Homo sapiens: one gene and its partner. The protein of the gene in region 2 purifies or fractionates together with the protein of the main gene of each other region. This does not show direct contact. Each region holds a gene or a part of one and is shown on either strand. Other genes may lie near its edges. The genes, in order: SULT1A1 and STAP1.

The links.
Region 1: the proteins of STAP1 (region 2) and SULT1A1 purify together in Homo sapiens (affinity purification with mass spectrometry; 3 studies listed by BioGRID and IntAct, with this or other methods). This does not show direct contact.

What each region holds. Positions count from the first base shown.
Region 1 is NC_000016.10:28,604,522-28,616,071, reverse strand, and holds SULT1A1 (sulfotransferase 1A1), read left to right. Parts: upstream 1-6,027; 5' UTR 6,028-6,141; exon of another isoform or gene 6,142-7,212; 5' UTR 7,213-7,216; coding exon 7,217-7,364; intron 7,365-7,468; coding exon 7,469-7,594; intron 7,595-7,683; coding exon 7,684-7,781; intron 7,782-8,994; coding exon 8,995-9,121; intron 9,122-9,216; coding exon 9,217-9,311; intron 9,312-9,797; coding exon of another isoform or gene 9,798-9,800; exon of another isoform or gene 9,801-9,817; coding exon of another isoform or gene 9,818-9,835; coding exon 9,836-10,016; intron 10,017-10,138; coding exon 10,139-10,251; 3' UTR 10,252-10,814; downstream 10,815-11,550. UniProt on the Homo sapiens protein: Sulfotransferase that utilizes 3'-phospho-5'-adenylyl sulfate (PAPS) as sulfonate donor to catalyze the sulfate conjugation of a wide variety of acceptor molecules bearing a hydroxyl or an amine group.
Region 2 is NC_000004.12:67,552,211-67,562,873, reverse strand, and holds the start of STAP1 (signal-transducing adaptor protein 1), read right to left. Parts: upstream 4,148-10,663; 5' UTR 4,065-4,147; coding exon 3,945-4,064; intron 1-3,944. UniProt on the Homo sapiens protein: In BCR signaling, appears to function as a docking protein acting downstream of TEC and participates in a positive feedback loop by increasing the activity of TEC.

The DNA of each region.
Region 1 (11,550 bases), on a different chromosome or scaffold from region 2:
AGCGGTGACACCAGCATCTGGGAAGATGCCCGTTACCAGGCGGATCGTGGTCCAGCGTCTCCCTGTGATGCTGTGCTTCAGTGGTCACACTCCTAGTCCACCTTCATGTTTCATCCTGTACACCTGACTCTGCCTTCTAGATAGCAGTGGTAAATTAGTGAAAATACTAATAGTCCCTGATATGCAGAAATAATGGCATAAGCTGTCTTTCTCTTTGTCTCCTCTCCCTCTCTGCCTCGGCTGCCAGGCAGGGAAGGGCCCCCTGTCCAGTGGACACGTGACCCACGTGACCTTACCTATCATTGGAGGTGACTCACATTCTTTACCCTGACCCTTCAGCCTTGTATCCAATAAATAACAGCGCAGCCCGACGTTCGGGGCCACTACCAGTCTCTGCATATTGGTGGTAGTGGTCACCCGGGCCCAACTGCCTGTGTTGCCCAGGCTTCCTGTGTTGGCCGTGCTGTCACCAAGGTCACAGCATCCTGAGAACATGGTTTTCTCCTTGACTAACAAGGCCTCGGGGTCTGTCTCGGGGTTGGCCTTCCACCGGGTCAGCGGGATGATCCGGCGCAAGCTCACGGTGTGTCTCCTGGTGGTAGAGGGGCTTGTGTCAACCTGTGGCCGGGTGGGGATGCTCCTTCCCAGCTGGTAGGCTGCCCCCAGGCTCCATGCCCTGCCCTGGCCTGGACACTCACGCTTTGCCTTCTTCATCAATGTCATCTACCTCATACCTGTGGACAAAAGGAGGAAAATGCAGGATGCAGCCAGGGGCACAGTCCCTGTAGGGGAGTGTGGAGGACAGGGGCAGGGCAAGGACCCGGTGCTCCCTGCACAGCCGGCCCCGCCCACAGCACGCTCTGTGGAGTTTTTCTCCTGCTGTGCAGATGAGAAGCAGAGTGGCAGCCCAGGCAGGTGCAGTGACCAGAGAGCAGCCCTGGGGCTGTTGGAGGAGCCCCTGGGAGCCTCCATCTCCCGAGTGAGCCCAGCAGGACTGTGACCCGTTCGGCCAGGTGTCCTACAGGGGCTGCTGGGCTCAGCTACAGATGGGCGAGACCGCAGCATAGTGGGCGCCCAGCGGGAAGAACCAGGGAGGGACAAAGTGAGTTTGCAGGTGGTGGAGAGGCTCTCTTCTTGATGTCGGTGCTGAACCAGAAGTGTGTTTAAGGAGAATTTCCTAAAATTCAAAGAGTTCCACGGGAGTCGCGGCTAGGCCGGGGCGCTTCTTCAGCATCTACCTGCTCTACGGCCTGAACCCCCGTCATCAGGGCCACGTTTATATGGGGTTCACTGTCAGCCCTGCTTGTCAGGTCCAGCAGCACAATGGGGGCCACACAAAAGGCAGGGCCCAGGCCTGGCGCGGTGGCTCAAGCCTGTAAACCCAACACATTGGGAGGCCAAAGCGGTTGGATCACTTGAGGTCAGGAGTTCGAGACCAGCCTGACCAACATGGTGAAACCCCGTCTGTAATAGAAATACAAAAATTAGTCGGGCATGGTGGCACGTGCCTGTAATTACAGCTACTCAAAAGGCTGAGGCGGGAGAATTGCTTGAAAGATGGGGCAGGGGGCAGCGGCAGAGGTTGCAGTGAGCCAAATCGGGCCATTGCACTCCTGGTGAGACCGGAAGGGTCTCTGTGCCAGGAGGAAGGCTTCCTGGAGGAGGCGGACCCCGCTGGGCACAAGCCTGATGAGAGGGAAGGGCATGCCTGTGACATGGGTGGGGAGTCCAGGGTGGGGACGGGACTGTCACAGAGGAGGAGCATGACGGGGAGACAGTGCCCTGGGAATCTTGGCGGTGGAACTCCGGGGAGGAGCTGGCTGGGGCGGAGGTGATGATCCAGGATGCGGGCCAGCGTAGGGGTCTTGGTGGGCATGCTGGGGTCGGATGGAGCGCAGGAGAGAGAAGAGGGGGGACAGGTGGGTACCTGGGCTGGAGGCGCGGCCTGAGGTGGGCAGGTGCAGGGGGCGTGACTTCATTTAGGGGCAGGGCCTGGGGCTAGGCTGAAGCCGGCAGTGAGGACCCCGCTCTCGGGTGGAATTGGAGGGGACCCGCGGTTGGGCGCGGCAGGGCTCACAGGGACACCCCCGTTCTCCTCCCCAGGGAGAAAGTGCTCGTCGTGCACGGCTTCCCGCCCGCCGTGGCAACCCTTCGGGTAAGGAAGGAGACCAGGCGGCGGCAGGCGGGCAAGGGCTTGGGGTCCGCCCCCCTGCCTGGAGCCGCCCTAACTCCTCCGTATCCTGCCGCTGTTGGAGTGGGCCTGGAACCCCCTCCATAGGCGCGCCTCCTACTCCCGCTGCACCCCGACCTCCGCCGGGACCTCTATGCGCCGCGCCGCACGGGCGATGGCCTTCGGGCCTCCCCGGCCCCAGGGCACCGCGCAGGTCCCTTTGCTGGCACCAAGCCCGAGCCTGAGCCGGACCCGGGGCCCAAGAGGCCTGTGCGCCCTGCGAGCCCTTGAGCTCCAGGGGAGGTCCGCCCCAGGCAGGGCGGCTCATCCCCCAGACCACTTCGGATCCAGCTGTTTGTTGAGGAGCCAGGAAACGCCCTGACACTTTTGCGGCCCTGTCCCCGTCTCTAAGATGGGGATGATAGTATTTCTGGCCATTCCTGAGCACAGCAGGACCTGCCTTTTCCCTTTGACTGGAAGGTTCTTCTCTACACCTATCTTGATAACCTGCCACCTCCACAGGGAGGTCTTCTCTATCTCCCGATTTAAAATTGCAGCTCTGAGAAGCCGGGCATGGTGGCATATGCCTGTAGTCCCAGCTACGGGGGGAGGCTGAGGTGGGAGGATCGCTTGGTCCCAGGAGTTGGAGGCTGCAGTGAGCTCTGATCGCTCCACTGCACTATAGCCTGGGCAAAAGAGCAAGAAACTGTCTCTAAAAATATAAAATAAAATTGCACCTCTTGTGTACTTCCCCGTCTGCTTCTTTACCTGAATACTTACTATCTCACCGGCTAGGTGCTTTATGACTCTCGTTAGTCTCTCCCACCCCAACCTTTGCACTACATTGCCCGAGGGCAGCTCTTGTCACTGCTGTAGAACAAAGTCCTGCACAGAGACGATAGCCAAGAAATAGTTAATAAAATAATGGAAAACGGGTGCCTTCTACTGAGCACCCGCTAATAGTGAGTGAGTAGAGGACTTGCCCTGGGGACATTCAGTGACCTGCTGGGTGTTGCTGAGCTGTGAGGAAGTTCAGGTCTGGCTGCAGTGGTGAGGCTGTGACTCAATCAATCACTGCTGATGCTCCCAGGACCTGCACCAGCTTAGTCCCAGGGGCAAGGATTTTAAACCCCCACCTCCATTTCCTCATCTGTAAGATGCAAATAACAGTCACCTCTGCCTCACGGGATGGAGCTGTGTAATGCCCGGAACAGTGCCTGCTGCATAGAGGGGTTGCTGCCAGCTGCCTCTCCCTCCTTGTCTCTTACCTGCCTGCTGCCTGGGACAGGATGAAGCGGGGCCCTTGTGTTGCCCCAACCCTGGCTGTTGGCTAAGAGCCCACGTGATCTGCCTGTGAGAGGAGTTCCTTCCGGAAGAACCAGGGCAGCTTCTGCCCCTAGAGGGCCAATGCCCTAGCTGAGTGCAGTCCCCCGGCCCCAGCCTGGTCCAGCTTTGGGAAGAGGGTGCCCAGTTGTGCAATCCAGGCCGGGGCAGCCGTGTCCTGATCTTGGTATTCAGGGCTGAGCCTGGAGGGGGCTTGTGATGCCTGACTCTGTCTCTCTCTCTGGCCCCATGCCTTGGTAGCTGTGAGGCGTCACTGCTTTGGGTGACCTGATCTGGCTGTGATGGATGAGCACGGGGGAAATAGTGGAAGACTCGGAATTAGAAGACGTGAGTGGGCTTTGGCCCCAGCCTCCCTACCCCACTCCCTGTCCTGGGCTGCCTGTGACCAACCTTGTTTCTGCAGGCACACTGGATAGCCCTGCTGGAGCTCAGTGTCCCTAATCCCCTCCAGATACTGGTGGCCTAGGGGAGGTCATCAAAGACCGGTGGGACATCGACCTCAGCCCGTTTCCACGCTTTTTTTTGTTTTGTTTTGTTTTTTTGAGACCGAGTTTCACTCTTGTTGCCCAGGCTGGAGTGCAATGGCGTGATCTTGGCTCACCGCAACCTCCGCCTCCCGGGTTCAAGCGATTCTCCTGCCTCAGCCTCCCAAGTAGCTGGGATTACAGGCGTGTGCCACCAGGCTTGACTAATTTTCTATTTTTAGTAGAGACAAGGTTTCTCCATGTTGGTCAGGCTGGTCTCAAACTCCCGACTTCAGGTGGTCTGCCTGCCTCGGCCTCCCAAAGTGCTGGGATTACAGGAGTGAGCCACCGTGCCAGGCCTTCTCCAGGCTCTTGGCACCTTAGCCAGAAACAATTTAAGGACAAGTGCAAAAGTCATGAATGTAGGCAGATTTCCTGCAGAGTAAAGGGACTCACTGAAGAAGAGGAACGTGGGGGTCCTCAAGAGAGTGTCTCATGCCCTACAAGGTGTGGGGCTGACCTTTATGGGCTTCTTCAACTAAAGAGGGGTATATTCATGAAGAGTCCAGGAAAAGGTAAAGATTTCTCAAGACCGTGGTGCCACAATTTACACCCAAATACAGGTGTTCCTGGAGCCGTCTTGGCACTGGTGGGTGTACGGTTTCATATGTTACTGATCATACAATGAGATCCTAGGTGAAACCTACATCAAATACAGCGCCATGTTGTGTCTGGTTGGTCGTAGCCAGCTTGGTCCTCATCCTATTTTTCAGGGACTTATTGGCCCTTAGCGCATGCAGCTATTTCAAGTTTCCTTCTTCTCCTCATGTGAAACTGCTGCCTGGGATTTTGTATTCACTTGCTACCACTCTATTAATCTCACATTCTCGCCTCTTTTCTGTGTCACCCCGTGTGGGTCCGACAGGTTGTTACTAGAGTGCAATACAAAGTCTTAGTCAAGGGAACCTCCTGAGGGTTGCTGAGGGCAGGGGTGGAGCTAGTAGCCTGAGGACCTGCCAGTCACGGGGATTCCTCATGGGCACAGAGGAGGGAGGAGGGGTCCATGGCCCTAGCATATGAGAAGCCTCTCCTCTGCCTGGAATTCCCATGCCTCAGCTTCCCCCACACTCCCACCTGTCCGCTTGCCTCTGAACTCACGCATTTCTTGGAAGTCTTGGGAGATTCACCTTTACTCAGATGGTTGTTTACCTGTCTCGTGCACAGCTTGACCTTGGACTTTAAAGTGAGGATAAAGAACGAGGAGGATGGGGGGATGCCCCCCTTCCACGGGGCCCTGTGGCTTCCAAACCTCGGCCTCCTCTGGTCTCTTGTCTGTGGAGCCTCCTTCAAACCCAGGGAAATAAAACCACCTGCCACGGGTTGTGGTTCTTCTAGGATCTTCTATCAATGTTCTCTGAGGTCCCCAGGAGCCATGAAGCTGGGGCTGACTCCCAGGGCAATGGGACTGCAGTGTCCTTGTTCTTTCTTGTTCTATGCATCCATGCTCTGCTCCACCCCTGCCCCTTCACTCTGCCCACACACATCCCTCTAGACTGGCCTTGTGGTCAGAGCCTGGAGTGCATGGGCTGCTGGGGGCCTGTGGGCTGCACTGGGCCAGAACCCCTGGCACCTTCAAGACTGGCCTGGAGCCAGCAGGTAGGTGACCTTTCCAGGGCCTGCCTATCCCAGCTTTCTCCTCCAATCCCTCCCCTCTCTTGCCTGGGTCAATTAGAGAGAGCTTGTCTGTTGGCTGCCTGGCAGGGTGGAGTTCAGGGGCAGGTCAGGAGCCCAGTGACAGCTCGGAAAAAAAAAAAAAAAAAAAAAAAAAACAGAAAAAAAAAACCTACAAAAACAAACCCACCATTGGGCCTTTCCCCTTTCATTCTTCTGTTTTCTACACAGCAAACTCAGTCGTGGCTTTGGAGATCACTTTAAGCTTGTCTCCAGCTGGCACACTAAGGAGGGTAATGGAGAAGCTCCCCCACCCCCAACCCCACCCCTTCCTTCCGGAAGCAAATCTAAGTCCAGCCCCGGCTCCAGATCCCTCCCACAGTGGACCTAGGAAACCCTCAGCTCAGAGAACAACCCTGCATTCCCCACACAACACCCACAATCAGCCACTGCGGGCGAGGAGGGCACGAGGCCAGGTTCCCAAGAGCTCAGGTGAGTGACACAGTGGAACGGCCCAGGGCGCCCTCACCCTGCTCAGCTTGTGGCTCTAACATTCCAGAAGCTGAGGCCTCTGGCATCCCTGCCCTTTCCCCATGGATATCCCATTTCAGACAACCCTGGCCTGCGTGAATCCCCCTCCCTTCCCTTGTTTGTTTGTTTTTTTCCCCGGGGAGGCCAGGTCTTGCTGTCACCCAGGCTGGAGTGCTGTGGGATCCTGGCCACTGCAGCCTTGAATTCCTGGGCTCAAGTGATTCTCTTGCCTCAGCCTCTGGAGTAGCTAGGACTACAGGCCCTCATCATCCTGCCTGGTTAATGTTTAAGAATTTTTTTAAAGATTTTTAGAGATGGGGTCTTGCAATGCTGCACCAGGTTGGTCTCCAACTCCTGGCCTCAGCCTCCCTAGGGTCTGGGATTATAGGTGGGAGCCACCCTGCCTAGGCCTGTGCTTTTGCTGAGTCATCAGAGTTTTGTTCATTCCCACAGCAGCTCTGGCCCCTAGTAGCAGCTCAGTTCCTCAATGGGCCGTGTTTGTCCTGGAGCCCAGATGGACTGTGGCCAGGCAAGTGGATCACAGGCCTGGCTGGCCTGGGCGGTTTCCACATGTGAGGGGCTGAGGGGCTCAAGGAGGGGAGCATCTCCACTGGGTGGAGGCTGGGGGTCCCAGCAGGAAGTGGTGAGACAAAGGGCGCTGGCTGGCAGGGAGACAGCACAGGAAGGTCCTAGAGCTTCCTCAGTGCAGCTGGACTCTCCTGGAGACCTTCACACACCCTGACATCTGGGCCTTGCCCGACGAGGGTGCTTTCACTGGTCTGCACCATGGCCCAGGCCCTGGGATTTTGAACAGCTCCGCAGGTGAATGAAAGGTGAGGCCAGGCTGGGGAACCACCGCATTAGAGCCCGACCTGGTTTTCAGCCCCAGCCCCGCCACTGAGTGGCTTTGTGAGTGCGGGCAAGTCACTCAGCCTCCCTAGGCCTCAGTGACTTCCCTGAAAGCAAGAATTCCACTTTCTTGCTGTTGTGATGGTGGTAAGGGAACGGGCCTGGCTCTGGCCCCTGACGCAGGAACATGGAGCTGATCCAGGACACCTCCCGCCCGCCACTGGAGTACGTGAAGGGGGTCCCGCTCATCAAGTACTTTGCAGAGGCACTGGGGCCCCTGCAGAGCTTCCAGGCCCGGCCTGATGACCTGCTCATCAGCACCTACCCCAAGTCCGGTAAGTGAGGAGGGCCACCCACCCTCTCCCAGGTGGCAGTCCCCACCTTGGCCAGCGAGGTCGTGCCCTCAGCCTGCTCACCTCCCATCTCCCTCCCTCTCCAGGCACTACCTGGGTAAGCCAGATTCTGGACATGATCTACCAGGGTGGTGACCTGGAGAAGTGTCACCGAGCTCCCATCTTCATGCGGGTGCCCTTCCTTGAGTTCAAAGCCCCAGGGATTCCCTCAGGTGTGTGAGTGTGTCCTGGGTGCAAGGGGAGTGGAGGAAGACAGGGCTGGGGCTTCAGCTCACCAGACCTTCCCTGACCCACTGCTCAGGGATGGAGACTCTGAAAGACACACCGGCCCCACGACTCCTGAAGACACACCTGCCCCTGGCTCTGCTCCCCCAGACTCTGTTGGATCAGAAGGTCAAGGTGAGGCAGGGCACAGTGTTTCACATCCATAATCCCAGCACTTTGGGAGGCTGAGGCAGGCAGATCACCTGAGGTTGGGAGTTTGAGAGCACCCTGAGCAACATAGAAGAACCTTGTCTCTACTAAAAATACAAAATTAGCCGGGTGTGGTGGCGGGTGCCTGTAATCCCAGCTACTCCGAAGCCTGAGACAGGAGAATCACTTGAACCCGGGAGAAGGAGGTTGTGGTGAGCCAGAGATCCCACCATTGCATTCCAGCCTGAGCAACAAGAGCAAAACTCACAAAAATAAATAAATAAATAAATATATAAATAAAAATAAAACTGTGGCACCTGTGGTGGCTCACTGCTGTAATGCCAGCACTTTGGGAGGCCAAATTGGGTGGATCACTTGAGCTCAGGAGTTACAGACCAGCCCGGGAAACATGGGGAGTCTCCATCTCTATAAAAATGCAAAATATCAGCAGGGCATGGTGGCATAGCGCTGTAGTTCCAGCTACTGGAAAGTCTGAGGTTGGAGGATTGCTTGAGCCTGGAAGGTCAAGGTTGCAGTGAGTTATTATCACTCCAGTGCACTCCAACTTGGGCGACAGAAAAAAAGAAAGACCACGGTCCTTTTTTTTTTTTTTTTTTTTTTGAGACTCTCTGTCTCAAAAATAAATAAATAAAATAAAATAAAATAAAATAAATCCCACAATAAAAAGAAAAAGCAAAGGTCCAGGTGTGGGGCATGTGAATCCAGGGAAGGAGGCCCTGGCTCAGCCCAGCTTTGGTCCTGTTCTTCTGGGAAAGTCGCCTCACTTCCTCCAGCCTTGTCTCATCTTCTGCGGCGGGGACTGTCTGCCTCTTGCTCTGATGACCAAGAACGTAAGACTCTTCAGTGTAGACCTAAGAAAGCTAGAGGGTGGGTCCTCACAGGCCCACAAAATTTGGTGGCGGTGGGATCACGGCTGGTGGAGCATGCCTTGCTCCAGATTGGGGTGTGACGCATTGATGCAGATTATATTACTATAGAATATGATGGTCTCAGGGACCAGGCAGGACTTTGGCTTCTGAGCAGGGTTCAGCTCCTGACTTGGCCCTACCGGTGCCGTGAGATCTCAAACAAGTCAGCCTCTAAGCCTCAGGTTCCTCCTTTGCCAATCCAAGAGATGAGCTGGCCTGGGACAGGCTGTGTGGTGATGGTGCTGGGGTTGAGTCTTCTGCCCCTGCAGGTGGTCTATGTTGCCCGCAACGCAAAGGATGTGGCAGTTTCCTACTACCACTTCTACCACATGGCCAAGGTGCACCCTGAGCCTGGGACCTGGGACAGCTTCCTGGAGAAGTTCATGGTCGGAGAAGGTGGGTTTGATGGGAGGAAGGAAAGTGTGGAGCTAAGGGGTGGTGGCTACAACGCACAGCAACCCTGTGTTGGCACCCCTTGCCTGCTTCTCCAGTGTCCTACGGATCCTGGTACCAGCACGTGCAGGAGTGGTGGGAGCTGAGCCGCACCCACCCTGTTCTCTACCTCTTCTATGAAGACATGAAGGAGGTGAGACCACGTGCGATGCTTCCCTCCATGTGACTCCTGGGGGCAGGCACCTCACAGGGACCCGCCAAGGCCACCCAGCCCCCTCCCTGGGCAGCCCCCACAGCAGGACCAGATTCCCCATCCTGCCTTCTTGGCCCAGGCCTCCCCACTAAGGCCCCACCTGGCAGCGGGCCCCACACAGCTCTCATCTCTCGCACCTGAGTCAGCTGCATGGGGGGCCACGGATCAGAAACTTAGTCCTATTGCTACTCCCTGCCAAAGGGTGTGCTACCCAGGGCCACAGTCACAGAAGAAGACCATCACGGTCCTCACCCATAGGAGCCAAGCCCAGCTCATGATGGGATCACAGGGCAGACAGCAATTCTTTTTACCCCCGGGACTGGGGCCCTGGGGGTTGAGGAGTTGGCTCTGCAGGGTTTCTAGGAGAAGTGGCCAGATCGCCTCTGAGGTTAGAGAAGGGGACCCCTTTTACTTTTCCTGAATCAGTAATCCGAGCCTCCACTGAGGGGCCCTCTGCTGCTCAGAACCCGAAAAGGGAGATTCAAAAGATCCTGGAGTTTGTGGGGCGCTCCCTGCCAGAGGAGACCGTGGACTTCGTGGTTCAGCACACGTCGTTCAAGGAGATGAAGAAGAACCCTATGACCAACTACACCACCGTCCCCCAGGAGTTCATGGACCACAGCATCTCCCCCTTCATGAGGAAAGGTGGGTGCTGGCCAGCACGGGGGTTTGGGGCGGGTGGGAGCAGCAGCTGCAGCCTCCCCATAGGCACTTGGGGCCTCCCCTGGGATGAGACTCCAGCTTTGCTCCCTGCCTTCCTCCCCCAGGCATGGCTGGGGACTGGAAGACCACCTTCACCGTGGCGCAGAATGAGCGCTTCGATGCGGACTATGCGGAGAAGATGGCAGGCTGCAGCCTCAGCTTCCGCTCTGAGCTGTGAGAGGGGCTCCTGGAGTCACTGCAGAGGGAGTGTGCGAATCAAACCTGACCAAGCGGCTCAAGAATAAAATATGAATTGAGGGCCCGGGACGGTAGGTCATGTCTGTAATCCCAGCAATTTGGAGGCTGAGGTGGGAGGATCATTTGAGCCCAGGAGTTCGAGACCAACCTGGGCAACATAGTGAGATTCTGTTAAAAAAATAAAATAAAATAAAACCAATTTTTAAAAAGAGAATAAAATATGATTGTGGGCCAGGCAGAGTGGCTCATGCCTGTAATCCCAGCAATTTGAGAAGTTGAGGCTAGAGGATCACTGGAGGACAGGAGTTTGGGACCAGCCTGTTCAACATTACAAGACATCATCCCTACAAAAATTTGAGAAAATTATCTGTACGTGATGGTGGGCACCTGTAGTCCCAGCTACTTGACAAGTGAAGGCAGGAGGATCGCCTGAGCCAGGGAGGTTATGGCTGCAGTGGGCTGACTGGGCTAATCCACTCAAGCCTGAGGGACAGAGCAAATCTTGCTTGAGAAATAAATAAAATACAATTTACTTAACATAAATTATGATTCAGGACCAGTCTGGCCAACATGGTGAAACCCCGTCTCTACTAAAAAAAAAAAAAGATACAAAAATTAGCCGGGCATGGTGGCAGACACCTGTAACCTCAGCTACTCTGGAGGCTGAGGCAGGAGAATCGCTCGAACCCAGGGACGGATGTTGCAGTGAGCCAAGATCATGCCACTTCACTCCAGCCTGGGCATAAGAGCAAAACTCTGTCTTGAAAATAAATAAATAATTAAATTAAATTAAGTTATTATTTGACCTGGGCTCGGTGGCTTATGCCTGTAATCTCAGCACTTCAGCCTGGCAGATCACTTGAGGTCAGGAGTTCAAGACCAGCCTGGCCAGCATGGCAAAACCCCATCTCTACTAAAAATACAAAAATTAGCTGGGCATGATGATGGGCGCCTGTAATCCCAGCTACTCCAGAGGCTGAGGTGGGAGAATCGATTGAATCCATGAGGTGGAGGTTTCATTGAACCGGGATCACACCACTGCACTCCAGTCTGGGCGACAGAGCAAGACTCAGTCTTAAAACAACAACAACAACAACAACAACAACACAACTATGATTTGTGTTCAATGCAGAGTCTCTATTCCAAGCCAAGAGAAACCCTGAGCTGAAAGAGTGATCGCCCACTGGGGCCAAATACGGCCACCTCTCCGCTCCAGCTCCTCAACTTGACCTGTTTGGAGAGGGGAGAGGGTCTGGAGAAGTAAAACCCAGGAGACGAG
Region 2 (10,663 bases):
AATTCATTTTTTATATATCAAATAATTTACATGGATTAATAGTACGGGAATATATATATTTATAATTTCCAAATGAATTAATATTCTTTTTTTGTTGTTTTTGAGATGGAGTCTCCCTCTGTTGCCCAGGTTGGAGTGCAATGGCGCAATCTCCGCTCCCTGCAAGCTCCGCCTCCTGGGTTCACGCCATTCTCCTGCTTCAGCCTCCTGAGTAGTTGGGACTACAGGCGCCCACCACCTCGCCCGGCTAATTTTTTTTTTTTTTTTTTTTTAGTAGAGACAGGGTTTCACCTTGTTAGCCAGGATGGTCTCAATCTTCTGACCTCGTGATCCGCCCGCCTCGGCCTCCCAAAGTGCTGGGATTACAGGCGTGAGCCACCACGCCCGGCTGAATTAATATTCTTATATTAGGGATCTGTGCTCAAAATGTTTTCCTGAAAGGAGTGTGTTATTTTAAAATTTGGAGATTACTGCCATAGAGAACTGTGTGTGAGCACAACTTAGACAGCCCTAAAAAATTTCCTTTTTTTTTGAGACGGAGTTTCGCTCTGTCACCCAGGCTGGAGTGCAGTGGCACGATCTTGACTCACTGCAACCTCCGCCTCCCAGATTCAAGCGATTCTCCTGCCTCAGCCTTCCGAATAGCTGGGACCGGGCCCGGCCCACACACACTGTTTTTTTTTTTTACTTTAGCACATCACAGATTGAAGAAATTATGAGACGTTGCCCAAACTATCTCTTATTTTCTTTCTTTTTCTTTTCTTTCTTTCTCTCTTTCTTTCTTTTTTTTTTTTTTTTTTTTTTTGACAGAGTCTCGCTCTATTGCCAGGCTGGAGTGCAGTGGCGCGATCTCGGATCACTGCAACCTCTGACTCCCAGGTTCAAGTGATTCTCCTGCCTCAGCCTCCCGAGTAGCTGGGACCACAGGTGCGTGCCACCATGCCCTGCTAATTTTTGTATTTTTAGTAGAGACGGGGTTTCGCCATGTTGAACAGGTTGGTCTCCATTTCCTGACCTCGTGATCCGCCCACCTGGGCCTCCCAGAGTGCTGGGATTACATGCATGAGCCACCGCTCCCGGCCCACCCACACTCTCTCTTATTTTCAAACGGTCCCAGAAAAAATGAGAAATTTTCCCATTTGTAAGAACTGCGATGCCAATGGTATTCCACTGTGGCATTTAACAGCTTTGATAATAAACACATCTTCCTGGTTAATTCAGAATCCTAGTGCTGTGGCTTAAATAAATCTTCCCACATTATCTTTTCCATAAAGATTATGTGTTTTTCATGGGTTCTTGACCTCAGATTTAGAAACCTTCTAGAATTGCATGCAAAATGGTATACGTTGTTACATTTTCCTGGGGAAAAGCTCTTTAAATACTTAAAAGTGCCCCACAAAAAATAGCTAAGAAGCACCTCTCAGCATTTCATGCCTTTATAGACCAGGTTACTCTTCAGTTATATTTTTTCTAGTTTAAATGTTCTGAATGACTTTGGCAGAGACCCAACTTTACATTCTGCAGAGCCTCTCACCTTCCTCTAGCCAATCAGCTCCAAAGATTACTTGGCTATATACCTTTGGCTCACCTTCTGTTCAAAGATTCCCTGGCACTTTGCTGCCAATTGCTTGGAAATTCCACTTATTTTGCTTAGATTTTTCTCATAGCTTCTATTTTCAAGTACTCTAATTATCACCATGCTCACTCTCCTTGGAGTCATATTACTTGCAGACCTCAAACTAATTTTAGTACCTGAATAAGAGTATGATAAGTGATGAAAGGGTAAGAGAATGAATCTAACCTTTAGTGTGAGCCAGGTGTTTTACATATGCTATCCCTTTAATCCCTGAAACCACCACATAAGTAGGTATTATTGTCATCCTCTTGCTCTCTTCTCCCTGACATACAAGTAAAAGGTACTTAGTGGTCTAACTCAGAGGCCCATGCCTGTAATTCTAGCACATTGGGAGGCCAAGGTGGGCAGGTTGCTTGAGCCCAGGAGTTTGAGACCAACCTGAACAACGTGATGAAACCCTGTCTCTATAAACAATACAAACGTTAGCCGGGTGTGGTATGCGCTTGTAGTCCCAGCTACTCAGGAGGCTGAGGCAGGAGAATCACCGGAGCCGGGGATGTCAAGGCTGCATGACTAGTGATTGCACCATTGCACTCCAGCTTGGGCAACAGAGGAGACACTGTCACACACACACACACACACACAGACACACACCCACACACACAAAGATACTTTACTATAAATTCAAATAGAAACACAAGTTAATTTCATTGGAAATATTTATGCCTATAGGTATTCATTCTGCTTCAAAGAATGCTTTCTAAGAGAAGGTAAAGAGTAGAAATTTGGTAAGGAAGACATCATTCCTACTATATTAAGCCTCTTGAAAATAAAATCTTTGTGTTTTTTTCCATATTCTCCAGAAATGAGTGATGCTTGGTGCATAGGAGGCACACAATAAATGTTGAGTGAATAAATTGATTGAACACCTACTGAATCCTAGAATGTACCTTAGGAGGCAAGTAGCAAGTAGTATACTCTCTATCTTATAGTTGAAACAGTCTCAAGGAGATTGAGTAACTTGCACAAGATCACAAGCTATAAGTGGCAAAACCATCAGATAAAGGACACTCTAAAATTCTTATTCTTTCTGCTAACCATACCAATGACATGTCTTCTTTAAGCATTTAAAAAAAACTGCTATCATAAACAGTTATTATAAATACCTTGGAAAACATTCAATGAACAACCTGATTTAAATTACTAATTAGAATTTTTTTTTCTCAACTTCCCTTTCCTGGCAAAGTGTGACTATGTGGCTTACCTGTGGTGACAAGATTGAATTTACATTAAAAGCATATAGGATCAATCTAAAAAATTCTAATATAACTGAAAGGTAATTATTTATGCATGTTTAACATCCATAACAGAATACAAATTACCATGTCTTTACTCTCAAATAGTAAATGATCTGATTATATATGTAAGAAATGTGAATATGCTATTATAGATTTTTCATATATATAATTTTTCCACAAGTATTCATAAATCCTCAGAAAATATATTTTAGCATCATTAAACATTTCTGATGGAATTTCTGAAAACCTTAAAATTTTTCTAGTTTTAGTCAGTATACAATTTCATAAAATTTGACCTAACTTAATGATTTTTTTATTTAATAACAGGCAATTTTGGGCTTATTTCTCTAATTAATTTCAAGTCATCCATAATTACTGTTTTAAAAGTAATGATTTTAACTAACTATAAGTTTTAATTATTACATTTAAAAATACAGAATGCTTCATGGATTTTCTTAGAGCAAAGGTATTTATGTAGCTTAGTGTACTTAATACCCACAGTAGTACCCCAAAAATTAAAAGTCACTATCTTGAATAGTATTTTAGAACACATAACTATATATAATGTTAAACAGTATGAACTTTGTCATTTTAACAATTTTTACAAAAGCCATTTTTAATAATTTGATCATTATAAACTTCAAATGACTCAGAACAGGAGCAGGTTTAATTTTAATCATGATATCATTTTATCTTAATGGTACATGTCATCATTGAAGCATAGCAATAAATTGTGGAGAAAATACAAGAAACATTTTATCTCCCAAGCCAAAATCTTTTGTGATATTTAAATAAATTCTTTGGAAATTTAGCTTATTGACTTTTTTATATTAGTGCCTTAATATTACAACCTCTGTTATTATACATATTATATATGTGTATACATACAGGTTTAAGCCAGACATTGTATTTAAATTATGAAAAATTGGAATCATTTTTCTGAGCTCAAAGAAGAGAAGATGATTTAATTTCAACAGAAACAAGGAGGTCTTAACACATCACATCACCATGAAATAAATATTAAATTAAAACAGAAGTCTTAGGTTTAACATTATCATCTATAGACTCACCCGGTATCCTGACCGCTTGATTAATAAAAAACCTTCAAAGTACAAAGGTAGAGCAGTAATCTTTAACCTTTCCTGGAAGATCCTGCGAGGGGCTGGTTTTGGGGGCTTCTTAGCCATCATACCCCTCTCTTTGGTGTGTGGTTTGGTTTCTCGTCTCAAACAAAATGAAATCTTCCTTCTGTGAGAGGAAAAGGCAACTGTTCAAAGAGGAAGTCCCAAATTGCTTTTTAACCACCAACACTACCACCAACAGGACACACACACACACAGACGCACACACACACACACACACTTTTTTTTCCATTACTTTTTGTGAGGTAAGAAAGAACAGGTGTAGACTGACTTTCAGAGGGCAATCTCTGGGTAATCCACATGTGCTTAGATTTAAAGCGCAAAATAAACAGAAGATTAACATCACCAGAAGATGAAAGAAACAGGTGTAGAGATTGTGAACTTTAGGGGAGATATCAAGAACACAGTTATTCTTTCTATCTTTGTTTTTGTTTATTGGTGTCCATTTTTATTTGCAGAAGACATGACTTGAATAAACTCAGCTTCATTAAAAATTACTTCATAGAATAATTTTATTAGTACTACTTCTGTTGGTTAAATATTTTAGGGTCAAGTTTTGTGTAAATAAAAAAAATAGTTGTATCTCATGCTCATTTGATGCTTCACTAAATATAAACCACAATTATGGGAACACGGAATATGGAATTTTTTTCTTTTTTCTTTCTTTCTTTTTTTTTTTTTTTTGCCAGTAGATATTCCAAGTACATGAGTTCCCAATGAATATTTAGTGCTATGTTTTGAATGTGTCCTCCAAAACTTATGTGTTAGAAACTTAATCCCCAATGCAACAGTGTTTAGAAATGGGACTTTTAGAAGGTGATTAAGTCATGAGGCCTCTGCCCTCATGAATGAATGAATTAATTAATGCTGTGGGAGTGGGTTTCTTTCTCTTTTTTCAGAGGCAGGGTCTTGCTCTGTTGCCCAGGCTGGAATACACTGGTGCAATCACAGCTCACTGCAGCCTTGACCTCTCAGGCTCAAACAATCCTCACACATCAGCCTCCTAAGTAGCTGGGACTACAAGGCACGCGCCACCACTCCTAGCTAACTTTTTCATTTTTTGTATAGACAGTATCTCCCTATGTTGCCCAGGTTGGTCTCAAACTCTTGGGCTCAAGCGATTCTCCTGCTGTGGCCTCCCAAAGTGCTGGGATTACATGTGTGAGCCATTGCACCTGGCCTGGAAGTGGGTTTTTTATAAAATCAAGTTTGGCACTTTCTCACATGCTATCATCCTCTCTTGCTCTTCTATCTTCTGCCATGGAATGATGCTGCATGAAGGTCCTCATCAGATGCTGGCCATGTTCTTTGACTTCCAGACTCCAGAACCATGAGCGAAATACATTTCTGTTCATTATAAATTACCAGTCTGTGGCATTCTGTTACAGCAACACAAAGGAGTCTAAGATATTTGGCAAAAAAATATCTGGCAGAGAAAGCTGTAAGTTTTCAAACTTTTATTTTGTTCTTTTGTGCTTTCTGAGCTGCAGACCATTGATACTATGATTCATGGATGGACTTCCCACAGTTATCTAGTGAGATTTATAAAGCTATACTGGGGCCAAAGTGCACTCAATGGTTGCATGTAGGAAATGGTCCTTAAGAGATTGGATTTGGCGTAGCACAGTGCAGGAAATGATGGGAGAAAAGAATACTAGAAGGAATTTTGATTTGTCTTACAGGGGTCCTAAGAATTTCTACCATTGCCTATTTCACACTCAGTATTTCAGAACTACTCTAGATTTAGAACAGCCTGGGCCCAGTGAGACCAGCCTATTATTAGAAATCAAAGCAAGTCAGGAGTCTTCAGTCTGATTCTCCTTTCCTAATGGAGAGACTGCATGGTTTTCTCCACCAGTATGGGTCCCACTGATCCTGCAGCTGTAGATATGGGATGACAAATTGTCTACAAAGTGAGGTAGAACAATACGGACTGATTATCAGTAAGTTAGAGAAGAGTGTTCAGATGTATTATCAAAATGAAAACAGCTCAAGACAGAAATAGGGAGTTGAAGATCCAAAATGACTGCTTTGCTTTTGTAAGTTTAGACCTGCTTCTTGCTACCCAACCTTCAAATAATAAAATATAAGTCCAACTGAATTTTTTGAGGCAAAAACCATAACTATTTTTTAGTTTCGGTATACTAAGAAAGTGACTTGAATAACAGGAAAACCTCCTGATTGAATATATGACCTAATCCACTTTCTTGGCAGCTGTTAGTTGTTGTAATACAGGGGGGAAGTGAAAGGAGGGATTAAGAATTGAAAAATGAAAAGAAGCAAGGATAAAGAAAGAATGCTGGGAATCATCAGTGATTACGCACTGACTTTATGGTCAGAAAGTTTCATAGGTGAGAGAAAATAATACCTCTAAAAAAATGTAAAGGGGATTTTTTGTTGTTGTTAAATAAGCACTTAGTTTTTTTTTTGCCTTTAAAATATAAGCAACAATTTAAAAACAGCTAATCAGACACAGTAAGTTACTTTGGTCTGCTGATTTGTTCGTCAAATTCATTCTTAATATACCAAGAATCAAATTATATCTCCCTGAAAAAGACTACAAAATGCAAAAATCTTGCTTAAACAATATTAACAAGTTAGTCCTGTCTGCAATGACTAGTGTCATTGCACCACTGCACCATTACAATGGAAATCCTCTTACAGATACCTCAAGTCTTAGGCAGTGAAGAATAAATTTGTAGGTAAGGAAATATAGTAGAAAATATGTTTGGACATAGGGCATAAACTAATTTTGCTACTAACCAGCTCTTGAGACCTTGAACAAACCACTTGACTTCTCTGGTATCATAGCTTCCTCACCTATACAAGGAGGCGATGGACTACATGACTTATTGTTTGAAGAGCTGCAAAAGGCTTTTAAGTAGTCTCCTAGTTTCCACTCTTTTTCTTCTTTGATTCATTTAATATTCAACCTAATCAAGATATTCCCCTACTGAAAAGACTTTAAAGGATTCTCATTGCTTTTGAGATTCCTTTTTAAATATTTTTTATTGAACACTAAATACTTATTGAATACCAACAATGGGCTCAAGCATGGCACGTTGGTCCTTTATAGCAGGGCCCCTTTTAAATAATAACTCCTCAAAATACCCTTTGCTCTGGTAATTTCATTTAGTCTCAGTTGCCTGAATACCCTATGATCTTCCCTGTCTCCTCATACCTTTTCAGTCACTGTACTCTGCTTAGATGCCCCTCCTTCTCTTTGTTTATATGGTAATGTCCTACTCGTCCTTCAAGACCCAGGCTGAATCTATCCTTAATTCTGAACATCTCCTAATTTCCTGAAGCTTTCTTCACCCCCACAAAAAAAAAAGTTATTACTCTCATTTCTGCTTTCCCAAAGCACTTTGCACGATTTCTTTCTTATAGTATTTGTCCTGTTGTAGTTATTTGTATACATTGAGTATCAACAAGAAACAGTTTTTCCAAAGGAAAGATTGTGTTGAAGTAGGGGTTGGTTATAAGTAGATTGCAATATCATATATTTACTGAATAGCTTCTAGCTAAAAAATATGATTCTAGTTTGGAGAATTATTAGCTTCCATTGTGACAGGAGTTTCCTTTTTTCTGATATATGTGACCATTGGTTGACATATGATTCTTGTGTTGCCTTGTAGAACAATCATGTTACTATTAAACTATTGGAGCCCAACATTACAGCCATCAGTAGCATCTGTGTCACAGAAGATTGTTACAAATCAGGTTTTATGGCAAATATAACTTAACAACTTTGGGTGAAGTATAAGATTTAACTCATATAAACCAAAATCTCAGTGCTGTATTGACTCCTCTATGTTATAAGGTCATCTGAGTAAAAATCCACATTTTTTACAATAATTGAGGATCTCTAAAATACTTTTCTATCCATTTATTAGTACTGAATCAATCAAATCAACCAACCCTGCTCCAGTACTTCCACATTTCTGACCTTTGTTTTGCTTAATACTTACTGATGATTTATTGCCATATGCATTATAATTTGCGGTAGTATATTTCTAAGATATTTTAATTGAATACATTTATTTTTGCAACTCATACCTGAAGAATACAACTTTAATTTTAACCATTGTGTGAAATACTTATAGCTTATCAATGGCTGGTATGAATCCAATACAATCTTTATTATGAGTAAATTTTTTATTACTATTGATAGAGTTAAGCCACATTTTCTTTTTCTTTTCTTTTCTTTTCTTTTTCTGAGACTGAGTCTTGCTATGTCGCCCAGACTGGAGTGCAGTGGCATGATCTCAGCTCATTTCCACCTCTGCCTCCCAGGCTCATGCCATTCTCCCGCCTCAGCCTCCTGAGTAGCTGGGACTACAGGTGCTCACCACCACACCTGGCTAATTTTTTGTATTTTTAGTAGATATGAGATTTCACCATGTTGGTCAGGCTGGTCTTGAACTCCTTACCTTAAATGATCCGTCCGCCTTGGCCTCCCAAAGCGCTGGGATTTACAGGCATTAGCCACCACACCCAGACATGCAGCATTTTCAGTGGAGAAAATGCACATTGTAATACCACAACTCCAGAGATTATCAGACATACAATATGGAGGGAGCTTCCTACTCCTTTGCCTGAGAATTACTGATACAGTGAGCCATTTTTACTCAGAAAATGTTTCCCTTAAGTCTTTTGAAACAGAAAAAAAAGGTGGGCAATCATTGTTACAGAAGTGATATTAGTAGCTCTGTCAGAACAGTTTAATTTGCTAACCCTTATAATTTTCAGTACAAAGAGTTGCATCTGGGATGATAAAAACTTTTCCTAGTTATGTATTTTCAAACTATTTTTACAGTGGAAAATATCACTTTTGTTACTGAGAAATAGTTTTTGGATGCCAGGTAGATACAGGACACTGGTTTTCACACTAGGTAACTCACAGAATAATGGTAGCTTTAATAGAAACTAGAAATTCAGAGTGGGGAGATAGTTTGGGTGGTAGAGGGATAATGAATTCAGTTTTAACCATTTCAAACTCAATGTATACAAAGGTTAAGTCTATGTTTTCTCTTTTATTTCTCATCCTTCATGCCTTCCTTAGGGAATAAGGTGGATTGGTGCTTACCGTCATTCCAAACCCTTCTAGTGTGCTTTTGTTTATTGCAGAGGCTAAAAAGATAAAATCTACATTTTTCAGACTTCTTTGCAGCTAAGATTGAAAAGCATTCAACATGATTGGCAAGGCAGAAGGGAGGCGGGGTTCATTCTTATGCTGCCTTTGTTTTTGTTTGTTTGTTTGTTTGTTTTTTAAACTTCATTGAGAGGAGGTCTGGCTATGTTGCCCAGGCTGGTCTCAAACTCCTGGGCTTAAGCAATCGTCCTGCCTCAGCCTTCTGAGTAGCTGGAATTAACAGATGTGAGCCACTGCACCAGGCAACCTTTGGCTTTTCTAACCAATAAAAAGGCATGTATGGCCTGTAGGCATCTAATTTTTCTGTGGCAAAGTTATCAGAAGTCCCAATGTCTGATCACTAGCTTCATGGGTGTTGATAGTCAAGTCACAGACATCAGTTTGCTTGTGCATATCATCATATCATTTTAGGTAAGGTGTGGCTCTGGAGCCGGAAGCAGTAAGGAGGCTTTCTGCTCTGAGAGGATTCTTTTTTTTTTTTTTTTTTTTTTTTTTTTTTTGAGACAGAGTCTAGCTGTGTCCTCCAGGCTGGAGTGCAGTGGCACCATCTTGGCTCACTGTAACCTCCGCCTCCCGAGTTCAAGCGAGTCTCATGCCTCAGCCACCTGAGTAGCTGGGATTACAGTAGTGTGCCACCACTACTGTATAAGTATAGAATAAGCTACCATTATTCTGTGAGTTACCTAGTATGAAAACCAGTTTCCCGTATCTACCTGGCATCCAAAAACTACTCCTCAGTAACAAAAGTGACATTTTCCACTACAAAAATAGTTTGAAAATACGTAATAGGAAAAGCTCTTATCATCCCAGATGCAACTCTTTGTACTGACAGTTATAAGGGTTAGCAAATTAAACTGTTCTGACAGAGCTACTAATATCACTTCTGTAACAATGATGGCCTTGCTAATTTTTGTATTTTTAGTAGAGATGGGGTTTCACCATATTGGCCAGGCTGGTCTCCAACTCCCGGCCTCAAGAAATTTGCCTATCCTAGCCTCCCACAGTGCTGGAATTAAACATGAGCCACCATACCCAGACTCATTGGAGAATTCTTATTGGTAGTGACTGACAGAGCAGGAGCACCATCATCTCAAATACTGCCACTTTAAGTTCCAGCTCCCTTTTTAGCCTCATGCATTTCAAGGAAATCACTTCTCTTCTAACTACAAGCAGCCAGAAAGAGCAGAGAGTAAAACAGATAAGACAGCTTGGGCACAGAGGGAGGTGGGGGGAAAGTCTCTTGGGTAACTGCCAAACTTCACCCTCATACAATGGGCCCCAGTAAAACAGTGGGCCTTAATAAGCACGTTCCTTTCCCTTCAGGTGCACTAAGATAGGGAAGCTAAAAGCAGACTCGGGGGAGTATGCCTGCAGCGCAGAAAGATGTATGGGAACAGACACACAAGTCTTCCTCCCAGATAAGCACAGCAAAGAGACACAGAAGCAGTACAAGCCTCTGATAAACTCTCCCACCCTGAATCCTTAAAAACTC